Linked DNA regions of Homo sapiens: regions 1 and 2 are each linked to region 3. The links come from fine-mapping of genetic effects on gene expression. A gene starts in region 3. Each other region holds a variant in brackets. All regions are shown on one strand. Distances are from middle to middle. Region 1 overlaps WWP2 (WW domain containing E3 ubiquitin protein ligase 2). Region 2 overlaps WWP2 (WW domain containing E3 ubiquitin protein ligase 2). Region 3 holds the start of WWP2 (WW domain containing E3 ubiquitin protein ligase 2).

Region 1 (8,179 bases), 89 kb after region 3:
ACAGGTGTGTGCCAGGCCCTACACCTGCTGCCAGGCTCTTTTTATTATTTATTTATTTATTTTTAAATTTGAGATGGAGTCTTGCTCTGTCGCCCAGGCTGGAGTGCAGTGCCACGATCTCGGCTCACTATAAACTCTGCCTCCCAGGTTCAAGCAATTCTCCTGTCTCATCCTCCAGAGTAGCTGGGACTACAGGCACATGCCACCATGCCCGACTAATTTTTGCATTTTTAGTAGAGACGGGGTTTCACCATATTGGTCAGGCTGGTCTCAAACTCCTGACTTCAGGCGATCCACGCACCTTGGCCTCCCAAAGTGCTGGGATTACAGGCATGAGCCACCATGCCCTGCCTTTTTATTTATTTTTCTTATTTTTTTTTTTTTTAATTTTTTTGAGATGGAGTTTCACTCTTGTTGCCCAGGGTGGACTGCAATGGTGCAAACTCAGCTCACTGCAACTTCTCTCTCCCAGGTTCAAGCTATTCTCCTGCCTCAGCCCCTGAGTAGCTGGGATTACAGGCATGCGCCACCATGCCTGACTAATTTTGTATTTTTAGTAGAGATGGGGTTTCTCCATGTTGGTCAGGCTGGTCTCGAACTCCCGACCTCAGGTGATCTGCCCGCCTCGGCCTCCTAAAGTGCTGGGATTACAGCTGTGAGCCACCGCGCCTGGCCAGGCTCTTTTTAATAACCCATTCTTGCAGGTTCCCAACAGAGAGAACTCACTCACCCCCATGAGAGGACATTAATTTATTCATGAGGGATCCACCCCCATGACCTAAACACCTCCCACTAGGTCTCACCTCCCAACTCTGCCACATTGGGAATCAAATTTCAACATGAATTTTGGTGGGGACAAACTGCATCCAAACCATAGCAGGGAGTCAAGTTGGAATGAAGCCCACAGGACTGTCTGTGAGTGGAGCTGCTCCTCCTAGCACCTCACGACTTCCTCTGGCTTGAATAACTGGCTCCTCTGTCTAGAATCTCAGTAAAATTTCCATAGTCATACAGGGAAATGGAACAACAACAACAAAATGAGAAGAATGCATTTAATTTGCTTTTTGATTCATAAAATTTTTCATTAATAGGGATTAACATAAGGGATCTTAGTTAAGAAGCTGTCAGCTGGGCGCAGTGGCTCAGCGTGCAGGCTGGGTGTAATCCCAGCGCTTTGGGAGGCTGAGGTGAGTGGATCACCTGAGGTCGGAAGTTCAAGACCAGCCTGACCAACATGGAGAAACCCCATCTCTTCTAAAAATACAAAGTTAGCCAGGCGTGGTGGCGCATGCCTGTAATCCCGGCTACGTGGGGAGCTGAGGCAGGAGAATCACTTGAATCTGGGAAGTGGAGGTTGTGGTGAGCCCAGATCGTGCCATTGCACTCCAGCCTGGTCAACAAGAGCAAAGCTCCATCTCAAAAAAAAAAAACAAACAAACAAGAAGCGAAGTGTCAATAGCTAGGTGCAGTGGCTCATGCCTGTAATCCCAGCACTTTGGGAGGCTGAGTTGGGAGGATTGCTTGAGCCCAGGAATTTGAGGCTATAGTGAGCCAAGATGGAGACCCTGCAATCCAGCCTGGGCAACAGAGCTAGATGCTGTTGCTAAAAAAAAAAAAAAAAAAAAAAAAGAAGCTATATATAGAGCCTTCAACAATTTATTTTCCTTTCTTATGTGTATATGTATTTAAGCTATTTTGTTTAAGAATGCATGTGAACGCACATGAGAGAGTGTGTATGTGTGTGTTTGTGTGTGCATGTAGGCCTGGGGACCTTGGATTTGCCTGTGGCCCTCATCAGCTGTCAGTAGTGGCCAGTGTTGGTCACAATCTGCATTTTAAGATGTCTTTCCCAGTGATTTTTTTACATGGAAAAGTTTCAGAGCCTCTTAGATAGTTTTCTTTCTCACTCCTTTACTCTTCTTTTTTTGTCCTGCTTTGATGAAAACATATCAGATTTATTGGCTCCCTTGCCTTGGCATTAACGGCCTCTGAAGATTTAAAAGATCTGTAATCTCGGAGACTTATAAAGCCTAACCGTCTCCGGTGAGCTCTAAATAGATCATCAACTGTGTCTGCAGACAGCCTATCCCAGAAAGGAAAGAAAAATAAACTCAGGCGGGTGTGAGTCCACTGTGAACACTTCAGGAAGTCCTGGGAGGGCCGGGGGAGAATTGGGAAGCAGAGCTAGCAGGGAGGAGGGGTGGAGGGTGGATAGGAGCTGAGCCTTGGGCACTAGGCCATTCTCACAGTCATTGTTGGCTGGCGGTTGCCACCCCTCCTTCCACTGAGGTGACTAAAGGCTGCTTGATTGGGAACTGCAGTTATTTAGAGATGTTGCCCTGTCAGCAGGAAAGTCCTCCCATGCAGTAGCTTATGCTTAAAATCTGGGTATTGCCTCATTTCTGTTGCTGGGGAAGACAATGGAATAAGTGTTATTTATTTATTTATTTATTCATTCATTCATTCATTCATTCATTCATTCAGTTATAATTAAGACATAGTCCCTGCTCAAAGTCCCTGCTTGTAGGCAGGGCTTTCTTCTGAGCAGTTGGTAAATATGGAATAGGATTGAGACAGTGGTCAAGGGTCCCACTGCATTCTCCAAGCCAGACGTTGAAAAGTAATCATGGCTGGGCATGGTGGCTGTATGCCTGAGTCCCAGCTCTTTGGGAGGCTGAGGCAGAAGGATCGCTTGAGGCCAGGAGTTTGAGGCTGCAGTGAGTTATGATCGTGCCACTGCACTCCAGCCTGGACAACATAGGGAGACCCTGTCTCTTAAAAAAAAAATCATGGAGATTAATTACACACTCATTTATACATTGGTTTATTTTGCATCAATTAAAATGATACATGGTACCTTATTATACATTTATTTATTGCATAGATATTTATTTGGCATTTACTCTGTATGAGCCTAGAGAGATGTTTATAATGCCAGATGTGGCATGCGCCAGAAAGCTGGTTATAAACTAGGAGGAAGGAAGGCAAATCTCTGCCGTTGAAGGCAATATTCACTTGATATACATGAATGCCAGGCTCTGAGCTGTCGTGGTGATTAAAAGATGAAAAGTCGGCCGGGCGCAGTGGCTCACGCCTGTAATCCCAGCACTTTGGGAGGCCAAGGTGGGCAGATCATGAGGTCAGGAGATTGAGACCATCCTGGCTAACACGGTGAAACCCCGTCCCTACTAAAAATACAAAAAAATTAGCCGGGCGTGGTGGTGTGCGCCTGTAGTCCCAGCTACTCGGGAGGCTGAGGCAGGAGAATGGTGTGAACCCAGGAGGTGGAGCTTGCAGTGAGCCGAGATCACACCACTGCACTCCAGCCTGGGCAACAGACTGAGACTCCATCT[C/CA]AAAAAAAAAAAAAAAATGATGAAAAGTCAGGGTCCCTGACATCAGGGAGTGTCTCTAGTAGGAGACAGATGCATGGATGAGTTAGAGTCTAGTGTGATGGATCCATGGTGATGGTATGTACACATGCAAGAGGAATGTAGTGGGACATTACCTAGATATGCCTGGGAGATTTGGGGAAGACCTCCCACATTTGAGCAGTATTTTGAAGGAGTTTGCCAGACCGACGAAGTGGGGTTCAGGGATGTCACTGCAGGCAGAGGGTACAGCATGAGTGAAGGCAAGGAGGAGTAAGAGAACTTGATGTATTTGAGGAAATAAAAGTCATTTAGAAATGTTGACATGTAAGATATTAGGGATGATAGCGTAGCAAACTAGGGTTTGCAGGCTGAATCCAGCCTGCCATCTGCTTTTTTGTTGGTGTTCTTGTTTGTTTGTTTGTTTTTGCTGGGTGAAATCTGCCGTGTTTTTTTTAGAGCACTTTTAGGTTCCCCCAAACATATATACTCTCTTCCCCACTATCAACATCCCCCACCAGAGTGGTACATTTGTTAGAATGATGAGCCTGCATTGACACATCATTGTCACTCAAAGTCCAAAATGTATATTAGGTTTCACTCTTTAATTTTTTTTTTTTTTTTTTGGACAGAGTCTCGCTCTGTCATTCCACTGGCTGGAGTGCAGTGGCTCAATCTCAGCTTACTGCAACCTCTGCCTCCCAGGTTCAAGTGAGTCTCATGCCTCAGCCTCCTGAGTAGCTGGGATTACAAGCATTCACCACCATGCCCAGCTAATTTTTTTTTTTTGTATTTTTAGTAGAGATGAGGTTTCCCCATGTTGGCCAGGCTGGTCTTGAACTCCTGGACTCAAGTGATCCACGTGCCTTGGCCCTCACATGTATCCACCATTACTCTGTCATACAGAGTAGTTTCACTGCCCTGTGCTTCATCTATTCATCTCTCCCTCCCGTCCCCAGCCCATTGTAACCACTGATATTTTATTGTCTGCATAGTTTTGCCATTTCCAGAATGTCGTATAGCTGGATCATAGAGTATATAGCCTTGTCAGATTGGCTTCTTTCACTTAGTAATTGGGATTTACGTTTCTTTCACGTCTTCTCATGGCTTGATATTTTGGGTACTGAATAATATTTCATTGTCTGCATGTACCACAGTTTATCCATTCACTTTTACATTCCTCCTCCACAGTTTATTCATTCATTTACTGGTTGCTTCCAAGTTTTGGCAATGATGAATAATAAAGCTGCCATAAACATTAGTGTGCAGGTTTCTGTGCAGATAAAAGTTTTCAACTCGGTCGGGAACGGTGGCTCATGCCTGTAATCCTAGCACTGTGGGAGGCCGAGGCAGGCATATCGCAAGGTCAAGAGATCCAGACCATCCTGGCCAACATAGTGAAACCCCATCTCTAGTAAAAATACAAAAAAAAATTAGCTGGGCGTGGTAGTGCGCTCCTGGAGTCCCAGCTACTCGGGAGGCTGAGGCAGGAGAATAGCTTAAATCTGGGGGGTGGAGTTTGCAGTGAGCTGAGATCACGCCACTGCACTCCAGCCTGGCGACAGAGCAGCGAGATTCCAGCTAAAACAAAACAAAACAAAACAAAACAAAGTTTTTAACTTGCTTGGGTAAATACAAAGGAACATGATTGCTGGGTCATATGGTAAAAGTATGCTTAGTTTTGTAAGAAACTGCTAAACTGTTTTCCAAAACGGCTGCACCAGTTTGCATTGCCACCAGCAGTGAGTGAGAGTTCCTGTTGCTCCACATCTTCACCAGGTTTGATGTAGTCCATTTTCTGGATTTTGGCTATTCTAATGGGTATCTAGTGATATCTCACTTTAATTTGCATTTCCTGGATGATATATGATGTGGAGAGTCTCTTTTTTTTTTTGAGAAAGAGCCTCACTCTGTTGTCCAGGCTGGAGTGCAATGGTGTGATCTCGGCTTACTGCACCCTCCACCTCCTAGGTTCAAGTGATTCTCCTGCCTCAGCCTCCTGAGTAGCTGGGTGGCACCTGCCACCACGCCCAGCTAATTTTTTTGTATTTTAAGTAGAAACTGGGTTTCACCATGTTGGCCAGGTTGGTCTCGAACTCCTGACCTCAGGTGATCCGCCCACCTCGGCCTCCCAAAGTGCTGGGATTACAGGCATGAGCTGCCTTGCCCGGCCTATGATATGGAGAGTCTTTTCATATGCTTATATTCCATCTGTATATCTTCTTTGGCAGGGTGTCTGTTCAGGTCCTTTGCCCATTTTAAAAATCTGGTTGTTCATGTTCTTATTGTTGAGTTTTAAGCATTTTTTGTATATTTTGGATAGCAGTTCTTTATCAGATATATGTTTTGCCAATATTTTCTCCCAGTCTGCGGCTTGTCTTCTCATTCTCTTTACCACCTGTTTTTGGAAATACAGTTTTATTTTTATATGGCCATACTCATTTATTTTCATATTGTCTGTGGCTACTTTCATGCTACGATGGTATGTTAAGTAGTTAGAACAGAGATCTTATGGTCAGCAAAACCTAAAAGATTTACGATTTGGCTCTTTGCAGAAAGTTTGCCAGTCCCTGGCTGTAGGAGATGGTTTGAAGGCAAGAGCAGTTCACAAAGGGTCTTTTGTGTTTTACTGAGGACTGTAGATTTTATTCTTTGGAGACAGGGAACCAGTGGATTTTGAGCAAGGCAATGGTAAGGCTATTTCTGCGGTAAATTATTCAGGAAAGTAGTCTAATGGATGAATTCGGAGCTATATCAGTTGGGGTTCATTGCAGGAAACAGAAAACACTCTAGGTATTTTGAGCAGAAAAGGATTTAATATGGGGAATTAGATGCTTATAAAAGTCACTGGATGGGCTGATGCAATAGGAGTGAGGGGTCTCCCTGAGGTCTTTGGTTACAGGCTCACAGGCTTGCAGCTCCAGTTCACATGCCAAGAAACTACTGTGCCCTTGCAACCGCTTTATGTATTTGAAGTGGGTGTGCAGGCGATGAGGCATGGTGTCTGCTGGAGCCCCTGCCAGTCACCACCACCACAGGACAAATGGCTTCTGCCTTCCTTCTGCTTTCCAACCTTTCTGCAAGAACTTCTCATTGGTGCAACCTAAATCACACCCAGAGCCTATCTGCAGGAGGGTCTGGAAGTCTTCTAGGCCCTGCAGTGCGTCAGGGCGGGCATATGGGATAGAAGAGGGTGGGAATGTCTGATACAGTGGGGCTGAGACCAGACTCAGGGACTGACGAAGAGGACTGTTGCAGGAACTGGTGAGGTTACAATTGATGACTAGCCTTGGGCAGTAGCGAATAGAGAGGAGACAAGAGAAATACCTAGGAGGTGTAATTAAGCAGGACTGCATGGCTGGCTAATGAGACAAGGTGAAGGGTAAGGAGGGAGGGGGGTACTCCCAGATTCCTCTACTGTGCTGTCATTCATGGAGACAAGAGACGCAAGAGGCGGGGAGCTAATGAAGATGTCACTTTAAAACCACATCTCCCATGGTGGTCGGCTTTGGTGTTCAGCAGGGTTTATGGAACATTGGTACTGCCTGGCTCTGGGGCAGAGTCATTTCTCTGAAAGTGCACCCATAGGAGGAGGAATGAGAACCTAACTGAAGAGACACAGAGAGAAACATCGTATTCCTGACAGTGAACCACAGGGCCACAATAAGGGCACAATTCAGGGCACGTGAGTGCTAGTTCTACTTGAACCAGATCTGTATCTGGATTCTACTACTTCTTGGTCCTAGAAAATTGTGATCGAAAGGGGACAAGTTTAGAGAGAAGCCAATAAAAAGAGTATGGGTGTTGGAGAAATGACTTTCTAGTCTTGAGAGCTTGGTAGCTTGACCATGTGCTGATGGAAGACCAGAACAGAACTGGCTGCAAATGCTTTAGACAGATGTGGATGGCGAGGAAAGAGGGGTGCTTCAGCCATGGTGTTTGTGGCTGTGGTTTGGTGAGATGAGGTTCGACTTTTCCTTTCGGATTCTGTTGGAACTGGATGGCTCCTTTTAAAGTGCCAAGGTCTGTGGAGGTGGTGATTTGGGGTTTGGTTTAGTGACTGCCTTTCTGGTGGCATTTAAATAGCCTAAATAGAATGACTCCTTTCAAACGTTGAATCAATTCTGTATGTAGGCTTTTCTTTTTTTTTTTAAGTTTATTTATTTTTGAGATGGAATCTTGCTCTGTCGCCCAGGCTGGAGTGCAGTGGCACGATCTTGGCTCACTGCAAACTCTGCCTTCTGGGTTCAAGCAGTTCTCATGCCTCAGCCTCCTGAGTAGCTGTGACTACAGGCACCTGCCACCACGCCTGGATAATTTTTGTATTTTTAGTAGAGGCGAGGTTTCGCCAAGTTGGTCATGCTGGTCTCGAACTCCTGACCTCAGGTGATCCACCTGCCTTGGCCTCCCAAAGTGCTGGGATTACAAGTGTGGGCCACCGCGCCTAGCCTCTTTTTTGTTTTTTAAAATTTTGAGACAGGGTCTTGTTCTGTCATCCAGGCTAGAGTACAGTGGTGCAATCAAGGCCCACTGCAGCCTCAACCTCCAAGGCTCAAGTGATCCTCTTGCCTCAGCCTCCCAAATAGCTGGGACTACAGGTGTGCACCACCACAGTAGGCTAATTTTTAAAATTTTTTGTAGAGATAAGGTCTCCCCAGGCTGGTCTTGAACTCTGAACTCAAGCGATCCACCAGCCTTGGCCTTCCAAAGTGCTGGGATTACAGGCATGAGCCGCTGAGCCCCAGCCGGCTTTTCATTTTGTTTTAGATAAAAATAGTAACAGAACTAAAATCTAGAATTTATATTCTGCT
Region 2 (8,179 bases), 110 kb after region 3:
CATGGCTGGGAATTAAGGTTTTTAAGGTTTCTCTGGCGTCTTCTTGGCCAAGAGGGGGTCCATTCAGTTGGTTGAGGAGCTTAGGATTTTATTATTATTTCTCAGTATTGTGGACTGTCCTGTCATTTTTTTGGACAGTGTCTTTAGAAGAGCAGGAGTTTAAAATTTTTGATGAAGCCACAAAATGCTTTTTAAAAAAAGGTTTCACATTTTATTTATTTATTTATTTATTTATTTATTTATTTATTTATTTATTTATGGAGACGGAGTCTTCCTACATTGCCTGGGCCAGTCTCAATTGATCCTCCTGCCTCAGCCTCCCAAAGTGCTGGGATTACAGGCATGAGCCACTGCACCTAGCCTCATTTTATTAGATATTTTTGCTTTCTACAAATTTCTTCCCTATTTCCCCCTCTCCCTAGCTCCTTGCAACCATCATCCCGCTTTCTCACTCAATTAGTTTGGCTACTCCAGGTAACATTTAAATGGAACCACACAGGATTTGTCTTTTTGCCACGGGCTTCTTTCACTTAGCAGAATGTCCTCGAGGTTCATCCATGTGGTAGCCTGTGTCAAAATTTCCTTCCTTTTTAAGGTTGAGTAATACTCATATGTATGCATATACCATACTTTATCCATTTGTCGAGGATGGGTTGCTTCTACCTCTTGGCTATTGTGAATAATGCTGTTGTCTACCTGCGTGTGCAAATATCTCTCCTGAGGTCTTGCTTTCAGTTCCGTATTTATTTATTTATTTATTTATTTATTTATTTATTTATTTATTTATTTATTTTTGAGACGGAGTCTCGCTCTGTCGCCCAGGCTGGAATGCAGTGGTGCGATCTTGGCTCACTGAAACCTCCGCCTCCTGGATTCGAGTGATTCTTCTGCCTCAGGCTCCTGAGTAGCTGGGACTACAGACATGCGCCACCAGGCCTGGCTAATTTTTGTTTTTAGTAGAGTTGGGGTTTTGCCATGTTGGCCAGGCTGGTCTCGAACTCCTGACCTCAGGTGATCCACCTGCCTCAGCCTCCTGAAGTGCTGGGATTATAGGCATGAGCCACTACACCTGGCCAAGGCTTTTTTTTTTTTTTTTTAAACCAAACAAACAAAATCCTGTTTTGTTTAATTACTCCACATGATCTGTTGCAAAGGTGACAATGGTCAGCGAGGCTGCACTGAGGTAACACTGTCACGTGGTCAGCCAGGCTCACTCACCAGCAGGTGGCTTCCCCAAAGCAGCATTGTGTGCTATGATAGAAATTTGTGTCTCAGCAGAATTACAAATCACAGCATTTCCACTAAGGTGGAAGCTCCTTGAGGTCAGGGACTCTGTTTTATCTCTAGAATGGGGCCTAACACTCAGAAAAGGATGATTGAGTACATTTCAGCGGCCCTCATGAAGGGCGAGGCCAGGTGTCCCATGACACCCAAGGCTCTGGCTGTCAGGGTGTAGCTGAGGATGGAGGCCAGGGCTTTGACCATCAAAGCTTAAATGCCAAGTGTCAGTGAGCAGCTCTGTCCTGGGGACCTCATCTGTGTCAGAACCACTTTGGGGAGCGTGGGTCCTGGTCGTGGCTGGCCTGCCTTCAGGAGGCCTCAGTTCTTGAGAGAGGACCTTGAGTGAGGACACACCGCATCCTGAGAAGGGCGAGCTACAAAGAGAGCTGAATTTCTGTAATGAGTTGACTTAAAACCATTTGTGGAGTTTGGCCTGACTGGCACTGCCATTCTAACTGCTTTCTGCCTGCCCTGGGGGCTGTATAACTCGTCCCCTCCCCCTAAATGGTGAGGGGGCTTGGGCCAAGGTTGAAGTCATGGGCAGAGCCGAGCCTGGCTGTCTCAGCCATCACCCTGCATTTGTCTGGGTGCTATTTTGGCCCACGATGTGTGGTTTCAGCATCTGGGCCAGCTTTTCATTACAATATGATCCCATCTTTTATGGGTTGAGTGAGTTCTCCAAGAGAGGAAACTGCCAAAGAGAGGAGTTGCCTCAGATGTTGAGGCCTTTTCTTCCTTTAAGCATCTTATTTTAAAGGTAACACAAGAGCCAAAAACTGGAAACTCCAGATTTAGGGCAAGGGGAGAATCTGGGGAGAGGGGATGTGGTGTTTGTGTGTGTGTTGGGGGGTGGTGGCTGGCCACGGGCAGGGAGGTGGCAGTTCATGCAAAGTGATCCCAGCTGCCCCTAGCTTAGGGCTGATCCCGCCCTGCCCAGCCCATCATTCAGGGTAAGCCGCTATCATTAGTGGTTAAGTGTTTCTGAAAGTATTCTCTCTCCATGCTGACCACATGCCCTTTCTGGGAAGGGAGGGCAGGGCCAGGGAGTAATGGGACCCACCCTATTGTCATGCCCAGCTGCTCTGCAGAGGGACAGGGAACCCGGGGCTGGAGTTGATCATGGACATGTCTGTCTGAGGGGTTGACAGTGCACGTTTTGCAGGTCCTGCAGCTCCCTGAGGGGTCCAGCTTGCTCCTGGGGGCTGCAAGTTCCAAATCAGAGAGGCTTTTTGTCCTAGTAAAGGGATCCTTGGCTGAAACAAACCTTCTATTAACCAATTTTCTCCCTCAAGCTCTCTGCCCTCAACACATACACATGTGCACACACACACACACACACACACACACACACAGACATACACACACAGATATACACACATACACACACACCAGCTTGCTGAGGGCTGCCTGCCTTTCCCTTTGGAACTCATTTGTGCTCATTCCACTTTTGAGGAGGAGCTGTGGTGAAATGCTTAAGGTGAACATTTCTTCCCATGAAGTGGGAACTTTGAAATATTCATCTTTGACTGAGGTGTGGTTGACAGCTTTTTGTTGTTGTTGTTGAGACAGAGTCTCTCTCTGTGTTGTCCAGGCTGGAGTGCAGTGGTACAATCTCGGCTCACTGCGACCTCCACCTCCCGGGTTCTAAGTGATTCTCCTGCCTCAGCCTCTGAAGTAGCTGGGATTATAAGCGCTCACCACCATGCCTGGCTAATTTTGTATTTTTAGTAGAGATGGGGTTTCGCCATGTTGGCCAGGCTGGTCTCGAACTCCTGACCTCAGGTGATCCACCTGCCTCAGCCTCCCAAAGTGCTGGGATTACAGGCATGAGCCACTGTGTGCGGCCAACAGCTTTTGATTTATGAAATTAGCTCAGGGAAAAAGTTAAGGTGGAAAAAGAGAGTCCACATTGAGTATTTCCACAGTTCAGTCGTACTCTGTCTCCATTGCCATGCAGTGTTTAGGTATGAGGGACTCCAGAGTTTGCTACGTTTCTCCCTTTTTCTCCTTTTTTTTTTTTGTTGGGGATTGGGGGCAAGAAAAACTTAATTTTTTTTTTTTGTTAAACAAGGTCTCACTCTTTTGCCACGCTCTCAGGCTGAAGTGATCCTCCTGCCTTGGCCTCCCAAGTACCTGGGACCACAGGGGCACGCCACCACACCTGGCTAATTTTTTAAATTTTTTGCTAGAGATGAGGTCTCCCTGTGTTGCCCAGGCTGGTCTCAAACTCTTG[A/G]GCTCAAGTGCCGTCCCATCTCAGCCTCCCAAAGCGTTGGGATTACAGGTGTGAGCCACTGCACCCAGCCAAAAAGTCATGTTTTTTTCCTTACTCACAAGTATACAAGCTCAATGAAGGAAGCTGGAAAAATCTAGAAGAGCACAAAAGGGCTTCTTTATTCCCAATATCCAAAGATAATGACGGTTAAGATTTTGGTTTATGTTCATCTTGTCAAATTCTGTTTCTTACTTTAGAGAAGGTAGCTGGTCTGGGTGGTTCATATCCCTCAAGGAGCTTCCTGTTGACTGCCTCAACACACTGGACCAAAGACTCCCAGCAGGGTCGTTCTGCTGGAGGTGGATCCTCCCAATGGGGAACTTTCTATTATAGCTCTTAATTTCACCATTGTCCAAATGACCAACAAAAAAATAGCCCAAGAGGAATTTAGCTTGAGTTCAGGCTTCCTGTCCCATCTTCTGACCTAAGAGCCTAGGCTCTTGACATTAAACTGCCTGTACATGAATCTTTGCATCATTTGGCTTACTTTCTGTAGAGCTTCTCTGTGTCTGTTTGCTTATCTGTAAAGCGGGGATAATAATATTAATCTACCTTTAGGGTTCCCATGTTAAATGAGAACATATATGTAAATGCATAGCACACACAGTGCCTGGAACATAATGTTAGAGTTCAGTGAATATTATATACTTCTGTAGCCATTATTATTACCTTTATTTATTTATCCTTTTTTTTTTTTTTTTTGGAGACACTCTCACTCACTCTGTCACCCAGGCTGGAATACAGTGACGTGATCTTGGCTCCCTGAAACCTCTACCTTCTGGGCTCAAATGATCCTCCTACTTCAGCCTCTTGAGTAGCTGGGACTACAGGCATGCACCGGTAGTGCAGCTAGTTTTGTTTATTTTTTGTAGAGGCAGGGTCTCATTATGTTGCCCAGGCTGGTCTCAAACTCCTGGGCTCAAGTGATCCTCCCGCCTTGGCCTCCCAAAGTGTTAGGATAACAGGCGTGAGCCACTGTGCCCAGCCACCTTTATTGTTGAGAGTAGTTTTATCGCCCCATGTTGCATGGTACAAATTGTCTCTGGGTCTCTGTTTCTCTGTCTGGAGAGGGGTGATCTTTTCTTCACTGGATGGTATTTGAAACATCTCACAGTTGCAAAGTAGTAGATGCTTACTAAGTAGTAGAAGAGCCTCGTTTGGTGAAACAGATGAACCGAAGGACAGGGAGGCTTAGACATTTTCACTGAGTGGGCAAAGTCAAGCTGCAAAAAGAACTTGAGAGCACATGCTGCCTGTTGCCTTGTGTTCTCTGAAGATGTCTGATAGGTTTTCTGCTGCTAAATTCCACACTTTTCTTTGTGATTTCTGCATTGCTTCTCATTTACTTGGATGGATTGTTGAGTCATCTTTTCTAGATAAAACATGTCTAGGCCAGGCATAGTGGCTCATACTTGTAATCCCAGCACTTTGGGAGGCTGAGGTGGGAGGATCGTTTGAGCTCAGGAGTTTGAGACCAGCCTTGGCAACATAGCAAGACCCCATCTCCCCAAAAATAAAAAAATGAGCCAGGCGTGGTGCTGTGTGCCTATAGTCCAGCTACTGGGGAGGCTGAGGTGGAAGGATCACTTGAGCCCAAGAGTTTGAGGCTGCAATGAGCTATGATCGTGCCACTCCAGCCTGGGCAGCAGAGTGTGACCCTGTCTCTAAACAAACAAGTGAATGACAACAACAAAAAGTGTCAACATATGCATTGACTAAAAGTTGTTTAATGCCCCTTGACTTTTATTGCCAAGGGAATCATCTTTCTAGCTATAGAGAAAATTGCTTTGGATAAGTTTTGAGCTCTTCTTGCCTAATGGGGGAAATATTTCATCTGAGCCTGTCCAGTGATTCTTGTTTATTTGTAACATTTGAGCCCAATAAAAATAATGTGATGGTCACAGGATATTTTGCCAATTATTTCAGATGTAGGGGCAATTCACTCTGGATTTGTTTACTTGAAGTGGAAAAGTTTACACAAAGTTACCTTCTGAGCTTTTACCAAAAAGGAAACTTCCCTGGGTCTCTCTGCTTGGAACCAGCTTCTGTTTAGTCCAAAACTAGAGGGGCTATTAAAGGTCTTGTTTCCAATAAATGGCAGGAGAAGGGAATATGATGACTTAGGTAGGAAACACTTCTGTCCTTTTCACAGTGACTTATGTCTGTCTGCTTTCTACTTTGAACCCCCAGGACGCACAGACATTCGGGTGCTTCAGCCAGAACAACCCCAGCAACCGGCGAGCAAAGCCCCGGTGCTCGGAGCCGGCACCGCCAGCCCGTCAAGAACTCAGGCCACAGTGGCTTGGCCAATGGCACAGGTGAGTGATGGCACCGCACGCCAGCCTGCACTGAAGCTGTGGGCTCTCACCCGTTCTAACGTGGACACGGGATCCTGCCCACTGTGTCAGAATAGAGGGTGGGCGTCAGAAGGCTCTAGGACTAAACTGGATTTGAATCCATCAGTCTTTCTACTGACCCATCTTCTTCTCTCTCTGGCATATTCTGTACAGCCAAGGTTATTCTCCATATGACTGCGCTCTTCTAAAATACTCATTTGCACAGAAATAAAAAGTCTTGTCTTTCTATAAAGACAATAAAAAGAAATGTCTTTTTTTTTTTTTGAGACGGAGTCTCACCCTGTCGCCCAGGCTGGAGTGCAGTGGCGTGATCTCGGCTCACTGCAAGCTCCGCCTCCCGGGTTCATGCCATTCTTCTGCCTCAGCCTCCTGAGTAGCTGGGACTACAGGCGCCCACTGCCACGCCCGGCTAATTTTTTGTGTTTTTAGTGGAGACAGGGTTTCACCGTGTTAGCCAGGATGGTCTTGATCTCCTGACCTTGTGATCGCCCGTCTTGGCCTCCCAAAGTTCTGGGATTACAGACGTGAGCCACTGCGCCTAGCCTTTCTATTCATTTCTTATCTGCATTGGATTTCATGTTGGGGAGGATATCTCATTTATACATAGCATATTTTTTATTTCCTTCACGTAAGGGAATTATCAGACTAAGGAAATGTAGGACTAAGTATTGTTGCTAAGAGCTGAGTCAGATGATGGCACCACTGGTGAATGGGTTGAGATGCTGACTGGGGCAGAGCCAGGTAACTACTTGGGGGTGTGCAGGGGCCATCCCGATGGGGGCCCCATTTGAGAGGAGACAGTGCCGTCCACGTGCGCATGGAACTTCCCCACACTTGGCTCTGCTTCCCCGTAAGTGAGACGGGAAGGACCTATTTCAAAACAACTCATTTTCCGTCCTGCTCTCCCTCTCTCTCATCAGGACAGAGTCAAAAAGGAAAAAGAAAAAACAAACCCATTCATTTCTATAAACTTCTCAAAGATTGTCAAATCTTTAGAGACTGCTGGTCGTTTGGTAGTTTGTCTTCATTTCGGGCAGTTGGGCTGGGATGTAGATGTTTCGCTTGGATGAATTGTAGGTAGAGGAATGCAGGTGTTGAAATTTGGTAAGTGACGCTGAGATAGTTTTCTAGTGCTCGTGACAGCAGAGGTGTGGCGTAAAGGCCAGGAGACCCAGAGCAGCATGGCTTTTCACGGAAGTGTTGTTGTGGCATTGTTAAGTGACCTCTGTGACAAACTTACTGAGTGGAAGAAATTGATTTGGGTTCCTTTGCAATACCCTTCAGTTCTGTGGCAGCACCATATGGGGGCTTCAGAGTCCCCGTGGCTGCTGCTGTTGCCTGGGTACCCTGTCATCTTCTGTGGACCACAAGATGGAGTGGTCTGTGTCCTACAAAGCGCACTGTGAGTGCAGTGGCCTGACCTCCTCCCTGAAGTTTGGGAGCTGCCTGAAGGACTTGAGTGAACTGACTAGCCCACCCTGAGCCTTGGGGAAGAGGAGGAGCTGCAGGTGGGGAGTCCCAGGGCTGCCGTCTCAGCTGCCTGGCGCCCCTGTGCCACCCACTGTATCCTTGTGCTGGAACATCCGGTGGTAGCTGAGCCTGGCCTTCCTGTCTGTGTGAAGGAGACAGCAAAGTGATGGCCGTGAGCCATAGTATAGAGAACCATAGGCAGCTCTGCGAGCATTTTTCTCTTAGAAAACTCAGTGGCTTGTGGAGGAGGGCAGTGTTTACAAATGGGGATGGGGGACTGGCTTTTAGGAACCAGCTGATTCCCAGGTGCCATGGCAGAGCTACTAGCAGCTTTGTTCTGCCAGATGCCTGTGTTATTGAGATCATGGTTTCCCGCAGCTACCTCTGCTTTTCCTATAAAAACTATTGGTGAATTGATTTTCTTTGGTGATGGTCCTTGAGTCACTCTTGGACATTTCAATAGAGCTATATTTCCCCTACATTTATTTTTAGGTACCATTACTTGTTGTCCTTATCTCTAGGAACCTTATGTTCTAGCAGACAAGGCAGGTGCCAGCCGTGTCTTCAAAAGCCAGGCGTCTCTAACCTTGGACTGCCTTGGAAGTGTTTCATGGTGGTGTCTCTCAGTGCCCAAACCTGTTCCTAAGATCCATCTCTGAAGGGCAGTTGTATTTTAGGGATTTCTGCCCACTCCAGTGCTGAGGGCTTGATGTCCATCTCTCCCCTTTCTGCTGTGATGGTGGTTCACCTTTACCTCACAGGCAGCCTGTACTTTATATAACGTCTGCCCCAAGGGTAC
Region 3 (8,179 bases):
TTGTATTTTTAGTAGAGACAGGATTTCACCGTATTAGCCAGGATGGTCTCGATCTCCTGACCTCGTGGTCCACCCGCCTCGGCCTCCCAAAGTGCTGGGATTACAGGCGTGAGCCACCGCGCCCGGCCAAGATAGGTACTGTTTTACAGACAAGGGATAGCTAACTAAAGCCACTAGGTGTAGCTGACATGGTCAGTAAGTGGTGAAAATAACGTAACACCCAGACAAACTGATTCAGAGCCACTTTTTTCTCTCTTCTCTTCTTTTTTCTTTCCTTTCCTTTTCTCTCTCTCTCTTTCTTTCTTTCTTTCTTTTTTTTTTTTTTGAGACACGGTCTCTCTCTGTTGCCCAGGCTGGTGTGCAGTGGCATGATCATAGTTCACTGCAACCTTGAACTCCCAGGCTCAAGTGAGCCTCCTACCTCAGCCTCTCGAGTAGCTGGCACCACAGGCCCACACCACCATGCCCAGCTAGTTTTTTCATTTTTACTTTTGTAGAGATGAGAGTCTCATCATGTTGCCCAGGCTGGTCTGAAACTCCCAGGTTCAAGCAGTCCTTTAGCCTTGGCCTCCCAAAGTGCTGGGATTACAGGTGTGAGACACGGTGCTGTCCCTGAGCCACCTAATTATCCATTCTGTTATACTGACTGCTGCTTATGTGCCTTCACTTCATTTTGAGCAACGTGGGGCCAGAGTCTGTCTAATTTGTCTTAATAGTCTCACCCCACCTCCCTAAGCAACACACATAATTTGGTAGCAAATAATTCCTTGCTGAATTGAACAGAAGGTGTATTTAGTGACTTCTACGTTTCCTTGCAAATCTGAAATTTTATGATTATAAGATCCGGTGAATTTTGCTGAATGTCGACTTGGGTCTTCATGCAAACTTTCTTCATGAAGTCTTCACGCCAGCTGGATTCCTCAATTGTCATTTATCTGTCCTACCCCAAAAATCCTTCAGTGCTACTGAATATTGCCTTTCAGCAATTACCCAAATTCAGTCTTTCTCTTTTTTTGGGGTGGCGGGAAGGGGACTGAGTTTTGCTCTCGTCGCCCAGGCTGGAGCACAGTGGTGCGATCTCAGCTCACTGCCACCTCTGCCTCCCAGGTTCAACAATTCTCCTGCCTCAGCCTCCTGTGTAGCTGAGATTATGGGTGCCCGCCACCACGCCTGGCTAATTTTTGTATTTTTAGTACAGATGGGGTTTCACCATATTGGCCAGATGGTCTCGAACTCCTGATGTACGGTGATCCACCTGCCTTGGCCTCCCAAAGTGCTAGAATTACAGGCGTGAGCCATTGCACCTGGCTCAACCTTTCTCACCACTCAGTCTCTTCATTATCTAGAACGTGCCTGTGCTACCTGCCGTAACAGAGTATGGCTGGAGGCTATTTCTCATTTTCTAGTTTATCATATCAATTTTTTTTTTTTGAGACAGAGTCTCACCCTGTCATCCAGGCTGGAGTCCAGTGTGCAATCTTGGCTCACTGCAACCTCCGCCTCCCAGGTTCAAGCGATTCTCAAGCCTCAGGCTCCTGATTAGCTGGGACTACGGGTGTGTGCCACCATGCCCAGCTAATATTTGTATTTTTTGTAGAGATGGGTTTTCACCATGTTGCCCAGTCTGATCTCGAGCCCCTGACAGTCTGATCTGCCCGCCTTGGCCTCCCAAAGTACTGGGATTACAGGTGCCAGCCACCGCACCCTGTCAGATTTTATTCTTTTAATGTGCAGTGTGTGCTCTTTGCTTGTCCCTTCTCCCCTTTGGTGAACACTTACTCAGATGCCACTAAATCTTTTCTGCAGGGTTGTTAAAAAAAAGCAACAAAAGATAAAAAATGAAATATGAAAGAAGAAAACAAACCGAAACCAACAAATGCTAGTAAGTCAAGGAAATAGTCTCTAATTTATCTAGAACAGAATTAGTAAAACTGCCATCAATGGAACTGGAGAAGTTTTAGTTATAGTAGTTTTATAAATGAGACTAATATAGGGTTTAATGTACAAAGACAGGACTGTATCTCCTTGAAAGTTAATCTCTTGGATTTGGAGTGGTACTACAAAAAGTAGAGACTAAGTGTTCAACCTATTTATTTATTTAGATACAGAGTCTCACTCTGTCGCCCAGGCTGGAGTGCAGAGGCGTTATCATGGCTCACTGCCACCTCCGCCTCCCGGGTTCAAGCAATTCTCCTGCCTCAGGTTCTGGAGTACCTGGGATTACCCGCACCCGGACCATGCCCGGCGAATCTTTTTTTTTTTTTTTTTTGTAGTTTTAGTAGAGATGGGGTTTCACCAGGTTGGCCAAGTGGGTTTCGAACTCCCGACCTCAGGTAATCCACCTGCCTCTGCCTCCCAAAGTGCTGGGATTACAGGCGTGAGCCTCCACGCCCCACCAGCCAATTTAATTTGTATGCATGATAGAATCCATCCCAATTCGAAGACCCAAAAATAACAGATTAGTACAAGTCTTTGAGGCTAATTACGTCATTAGTATTAATTTTAATCAATGGTGATTAAACTGAGCCTTCATTCAACTTGTCCAGAACATCAGTCAAGAATGTCTATTTAAAATGTTCTTGGAGGCCGGGCGCATTGGCTCACGCCTATAATCTGAGCACTTTGGGAGGCCAAGGCAGGTGGATCATCTGAGGTTAGGAGTTTGAGACCAGCCTGGCCAACATGGTGAAACCCCATCTCTATTAAAAATACAAAAATTAGCCAGGCATGGTGGTGGGTGCCTGTAGTCCCAGCTACTCAGGAGGCTGAGGAAGGAGAATTGCTTGAACCTGGGAGGCAGAGGTTGCAGTGAGCCAAGATTGAGCCACTGCACTCCTGCCTGGGCTACAAGAGTGAAACTCTGTCTCAAGCAAGCAAATAAATAAATAAATAAATAAATAAATAAAGTTATTGGGCAGGCACAGTGGCATTCGCCTGTAGTCTCAGCTACTTGGGAGGCTGAAGCAAGAGGACTGCTTGAAGCTGGGAGTTCGAGCCCAGCCAAAGCAACCTATCCAGACCCATCTCTTAAAAAAAATATTTCTCTGCCAGGTGCGGTGGTTCATGCCTGTAATCCCAGCACTTTGGGAGGCCAAGGTGGGCGGATCATTTGAAGTCAGGTGTTCGAGACCAGACTGGTCAACATGGAGGAACCCTGTCTCTACTAAAAATGCAAAAATTAGCCAGGCGTGGTGGTGCACGCCTGTAATCCCAGCTACTCGGGAGGCTGAGGCAGGAGAATTGCATGAACCGGCGAGACGGAGGTTGCAGTCAGCTGAGACTGCACCACTGCACTCCAGCCTGGGCGACAGAGCGAGGCTCCATCTCAAAAAAAAAAAAAAAAATATCATCTATCTATCCACCTACCTACCTACCTACCTACCTGGATTATAATTCATTAAGTTCTCTGTGCCCTGTAGTTGTAGATTAAGGGAATGCGATTGGATTAGTGTGGAGGGGCTTTTTATGGAGCCAAGCAGGAGTTTTTAAGCTTTTGTACTTTTGCTTCATGTCACAAGGACAGATGCCCCACAAAGGCTGAGATGTTTGTGGTCCTGGATCTTAGAACAGTGCCTGGCACATAATAGGCATAAGGTTGCCAGGAAATAGAAATACAGATACTCAATTCAATTTGATCTTCAGATAATCAAAAAATACTTTTTTTAGTATAAATATGTCCCATTCTGTATTTGGGACATACATATTACACTGTTGTTTATCTGAAATTCAAATTTAAGTGGGTGTCCTGTACTTTATCTGGCAACCCTACTAAAGGAGCTCAATTAAGTATTTGCTGACTTAACAGTCTGAAGGTCTCGTTTCACCTGTAAAATGGGGCTAGTACCTGTCCCTGCCTCTATAAGGTTGATGGGCAGAGTAGGTGGCATTCAGTGAGCCCTCAATTTATTTGATTGCCTGGGACCATCCGGTGAGCAGAAACCCTTCCACTTTCAACTACAGAGACGATAAAAAGGCCTCCTCGAGGCCAGAGGTGCCCAGGCCAGGCCTAGGTGGCCCGCACCTGCGAGCCTGGCCAGCCTCTTCCGGGTCAGGTGACCGCGCGCGGTCACGTGACCCGGCCCGAGTGCGGGCGGTGGAAGGCGGAAGTAGGAGAGGAGTTCGGCGCCGCTTCTGTGGCCACGGCAGGTAGCGAGCGCTGGCGCGGGGGGCGCGGTGGGCTGGCTGCCTGCACGGGGCGGGCCGGGGGCGGCGGGCGGCGCGGGGTGGGCCGGGGGCGGCGCGGCCCGGGCGTCGGGGGGCGGCGGCTTCCTGTGGGAGGGGCCTGGCGCGGCGGTTCCGGCCTCCGAGGAGGGGTGTCCCGGCTCCCGCCCGAGTGGGGTGGGCGCGCCGCGGCCCGCGCGGGGGTTGCTCCGAAATGGGTGCCCCGGCCGCCAAGGGTGCAGCTGGAGCGAGTCCTCCCGGAAGGGGAGAGGAGCTTAGGTTCCCAGGCATGGAGAGGAGCGATCTTTGTGGAGGGATCGGGACCAGGGGAAGGGGCGACTTGGAACTGAGCTGGAAGGGGGTGCCTGAAAATGGGTTTATGGCGTGGAGCCAGAGGGAAAAAGATGCTGCCTGGACCCCCTCTGAGAGTCTCTCCCTTCCTTCCTGTTTGGAAATGATTGTTACCCGAGACTTTGATGACGGTCCCATTCAGTTTTTAAACTTCAGGAGGGATCACAGAATCTTGATCGTCTTGCTTCCCTCGCGCCCACTTAGTCCTGCGTGGGTAGGGTTTCCACTTCTTGGGAGCCTAGCCCTTCAGCTCATTTTTCTTTGAGATTTTCCCTGAACGGGCCATCATCGAGGCTTTAAAAAACAAAAAAAGAAAATAAATTAAAAAAATAAGTGTGGGCACTTTGCCTGTAAAATGGCTTTTAGCTTACACTGTTGACCTAGCCCAGCGTTACCTCAGCAACATAGTGACTGCTGAAATCTTGGACAGAGAAGTGTCTACCTAGACTGCTTTATGACTTTTCTCTTTCTTCCGTTTAAATTATTCAGTTTCCCTTAGCTTATCTTGTGACTGCTTATCTTGACGAACTGTAACTAGGTAGGGTGCCTGAGAGGTCTGTGTTATGTTCCTTAGAACTGTGACCTGGATCATGATTTTGAGATTGAATACTTGTGTTAAAGCCTGTTCATCTTCCTGTTTCTCATGTTTACTAAAATTTGCAGAAGCAAAAGGAGTTTCATGAGTGCAGTGTAACTGGAACGAATGTTCAAACTGGACATTCACAGCAGCCAGCATCGTTTTGGGTTACAAGTAGGAAAAAGTACTTTCCTAATGTATTATGAGTTCAAGTTTTTGGAGTTATTTGACAAACATTTAAAAATTAGTTTTTGCAGCAGCGCCTATGAGTGAGGTTGGGAAGATGTATTCTCATTTCACAGGGAACAAACAGACTTACGAGAGACGACTTGATTTTTTAAAACAATTTATTGCTCTTTCTTGTTTGCTGGCCTCTTCCTGCTAGATTGCAAATCCTTCAAGGGCAGGTTTCATATTTTATTTGGCTGCTAGCCTAGTGCCTGGCATGTTGTGAGCACTTGATAAATATTTGGTGAATAAATGCATTTCTAAAAGTCACACCGGCGTAAGTGGTGACAAAGGATTTGAACCCAAGTCTTCTACTCTTTTTCTTGTCAGAGAAGCTTGTGATTATCTGTGTCATTGGTCCATATGAAAACAGGCTCGAGAGAAAGGCTTGGATTGGCTTCTCAGTCTCTTTCACTTCATGATTACTTTCCCATTTACAAAGAGCGTATACCAACATCTCACTTAACCTTCCCTTTGAAATTGGGATGGTCAGTATTGTCCCTATATCACATGAAGAGACTGAGGCTTAATGAAGTCCTTACTTTAGATTTCAGAGCTAGTAAATGAGTAGGGACTCAAGCCCAGACCCTTAATCCTTAGATCCATTCTTTTTCATTTATTGACACAATAGAAAATTTTATTTTTATTTTATTTTGAGACAGGATCTTACTCTGTTGCCCAGGCTGGAGTGCAGTGGCACAATCACGGCTCACTGTAACCTTGACCTGCCTGGGCTCGGGTGATCCTCCCATGTCTGCCTCCCAAACAGCTGGGACTACAGGTGGGTGCCACCTCGCCTGGCTAATTTTTGTAGAGACAGGGGTTTTGCTATGTTGCCCGGGCTGTTTTCAAACTCCGGGGCTCAAGCGATCCTCCCACCTCGGCCTCTCAAAGTGTTGCAATTACAGGTGTAAGTCACCATGCCCAACTGAAAGTTTTATTTTTACATAATTTTTCAGGAATAAAAAGTGTAACATTTTAAGGAAAAAGATCACACAGAAAAAGTTGTGAATGTAGAATGTGAGTAAATGAAGTTTAGAAAACGCTGTACTCTACCATAGCTTCCTCTTCCTGGGAAAACATTCTTTCATTCAGTGAATATTTATAAGTACCCACTCTGTCTTTGCCAGGCATTGTTGTAGAGTCCAGTATGGTGTACACTAGCCACATGGGGCTGCTGAGCACTGGAGCTATGCTGTGAGCATAAAATACATTCTGGATTTTGAAGACTTAGCATGAAGAAAAGTAAAATGTCTCATTGATACTTTTTATGTTATAGTAAACGATCATATAATGTATAAACATGTATGATAACATTTTGGATTTATTGGGTTAAATACAACGTAATTATAAATAGTTGGTCAGACATGGTGGCTCATGCCTATAATTCCAGCACTTTGGGAGGTCAAGGTGGATAGATTGCTTGAGCCCAGGAATTTGGGACCAGCCTGGGCAACATGGTGAAACCCTGTCTCTACAAAAAATACAAAAATTAGCCAGGTGCAGTGGCGCCCGCCTGGCTACTCAGGAGGCTGAGGTGGGAGGATCACCCAAGCCTGGGGAGGTGGAGGCTGCAGTGAGTTGTGATCGTGCCACTCATTGCACTCTAGCCTAGGTGACAGAGTGAGACCCTGTCTCAAAAAAAAGAAAAAGAAAAAGAAAAAAAGTTTCACCTTTTTGTCTTTTTTTTTCCCACTTAACCTTGACTTGAAACCCAGCACTTTTTTCTTTTTAAAATGTATTTCCTAGAAAAATAAAAAATTATAAATGTGGCTTGCACTTGTGGCTCCCATCTTATTTCTATTGGACAAACCTGTTCTGAATGCCAGGAATATAGCAGTACAAGAAAGGTAAGGATCCCCACCCTTGTGGATCTTCAATTTTATTAGAGAAGGGCACATTGATAACTAAGTATAATATGTATTATGTTGTAATAAAGCAGGGAAGAGGGATGTAGGTTGCAGTTTAAATAGGATCCTGGCCAGGTGCGGTGGCTCACGCCTGTAATTCCAGAACTTTTGGAGGCTGAGACGGGCGGATCACTTGAGGTCAGGATTTCAAGACCAGCCTGACCAACATGGTGAAACCCCATCTCTACCCAAAATACAAAAATTAGCTGGGCTTGTTGGCACATGTGTCTAATTCCAGCTACTCGGGAGGCTGAGGCACGAGAATTGCTTGAGCTCGGGAGATGGAGGTTGCAGTGAACCAAGATCGCGCCACTGCACTCCAGCCTAGGTGATGAAGTGAGACTCCGTCTTGCTTTTGGAGAGATGGGGAGTTGGGGGCGGGGGTTCTCACTTTTGCCCAGGCTGGTCTTGAACACTTGGCCTCAAGACATCCTCCTGCCTCAGCCTCCGAAAGTGCTGAGATTACAGGCATGAACCATTGCACCTGGCTCAGTCTCTTAACTCTAAATACTATCCACATGCTAACAGCTTCCATATGTGTGTCTAGCCTAGGCCTGTCTCGAGACTTCTAGATCTAATTGCCCACAATATCTTCACGTGGATTCCTATCAGGCATTTTATAATCAACATCAACAAAATTGAGCCCTACACCTGCCCCTCAGACAGCCTTCCCCATCTCAGTTAATGACAACTCCATTCCTCCAGTTGTTCAAGCCAAAGACCTTGGAGTCACCCTTGACTCGTCTCTTCCTCTCACACCCCACATCCAACTCAGCTCGTCCACAAAGCCTACTGGCTGTACTTCAGAGTACACCCTGGATGCATCTTTCCCCTGGATGATGGCAACAGCCTCCTAACTTGTCTCCCTCTTCCACCCTGGCTGGCCTTCACTTTCTCCACACAGGACCCAGGGCAAGTCTGTTAAAAGGCAGGGTGGATCCTGTCCACTCCA

The links.
Region 1: its variant is fine-mapped to the expression of WWP2 in whole blood (INTERVAL, PIP 0.95).
Region 2: its variant is fine-mapped to the expression of WWP2 in whole blood (TOPMed, PIP above 0.99).

What each region holds. Positions count from the first base shown.
Region 1 is chr16:69,847,033-69,855,211 of GRCh38, forward strand. The region is part of intron 6 of WWP2 (WW domain containing E3 ubiquitin protein ligase 2); the gene reads left to right. Among named protein-coding and RNA genes, the nearest start is that of MIR140, 82 kb to the right of the region's middle. The variant C/CA (reference allele first, on the strand shown) is at 3,354.
Region 2 is chr16:69,866,061-69,874,239 of GRCh38, forward strand. WWP2 (WW domain containing E3 ubiquitin protein ligase 2) reads left to right here. Exons shown (of 24, transcript NM_001270454.2): 7 at 5,744-5,871. Among named protein-coding and RNA genes, the nearest start is that of MIR140, 63 kb to the right of the region's middle. The variant A/G (reference allele first, on the strand shown) is at 3,515.
Region 3 is chr16:69,758,246-69,766,424 of GRCh38, forward strand. WWP2 (WW domain containing E3 ubiquitin protein ligase 2) reads left to right here and starts at 4,087. Exons shown (of 24, transcript NM_001270454.2): 1 at 4,087-4,146. RefSeq lists an enhancer at 3,892-4,470 and silencers at 4,174-4,313, 4,334-4,493, 4,514-4,563.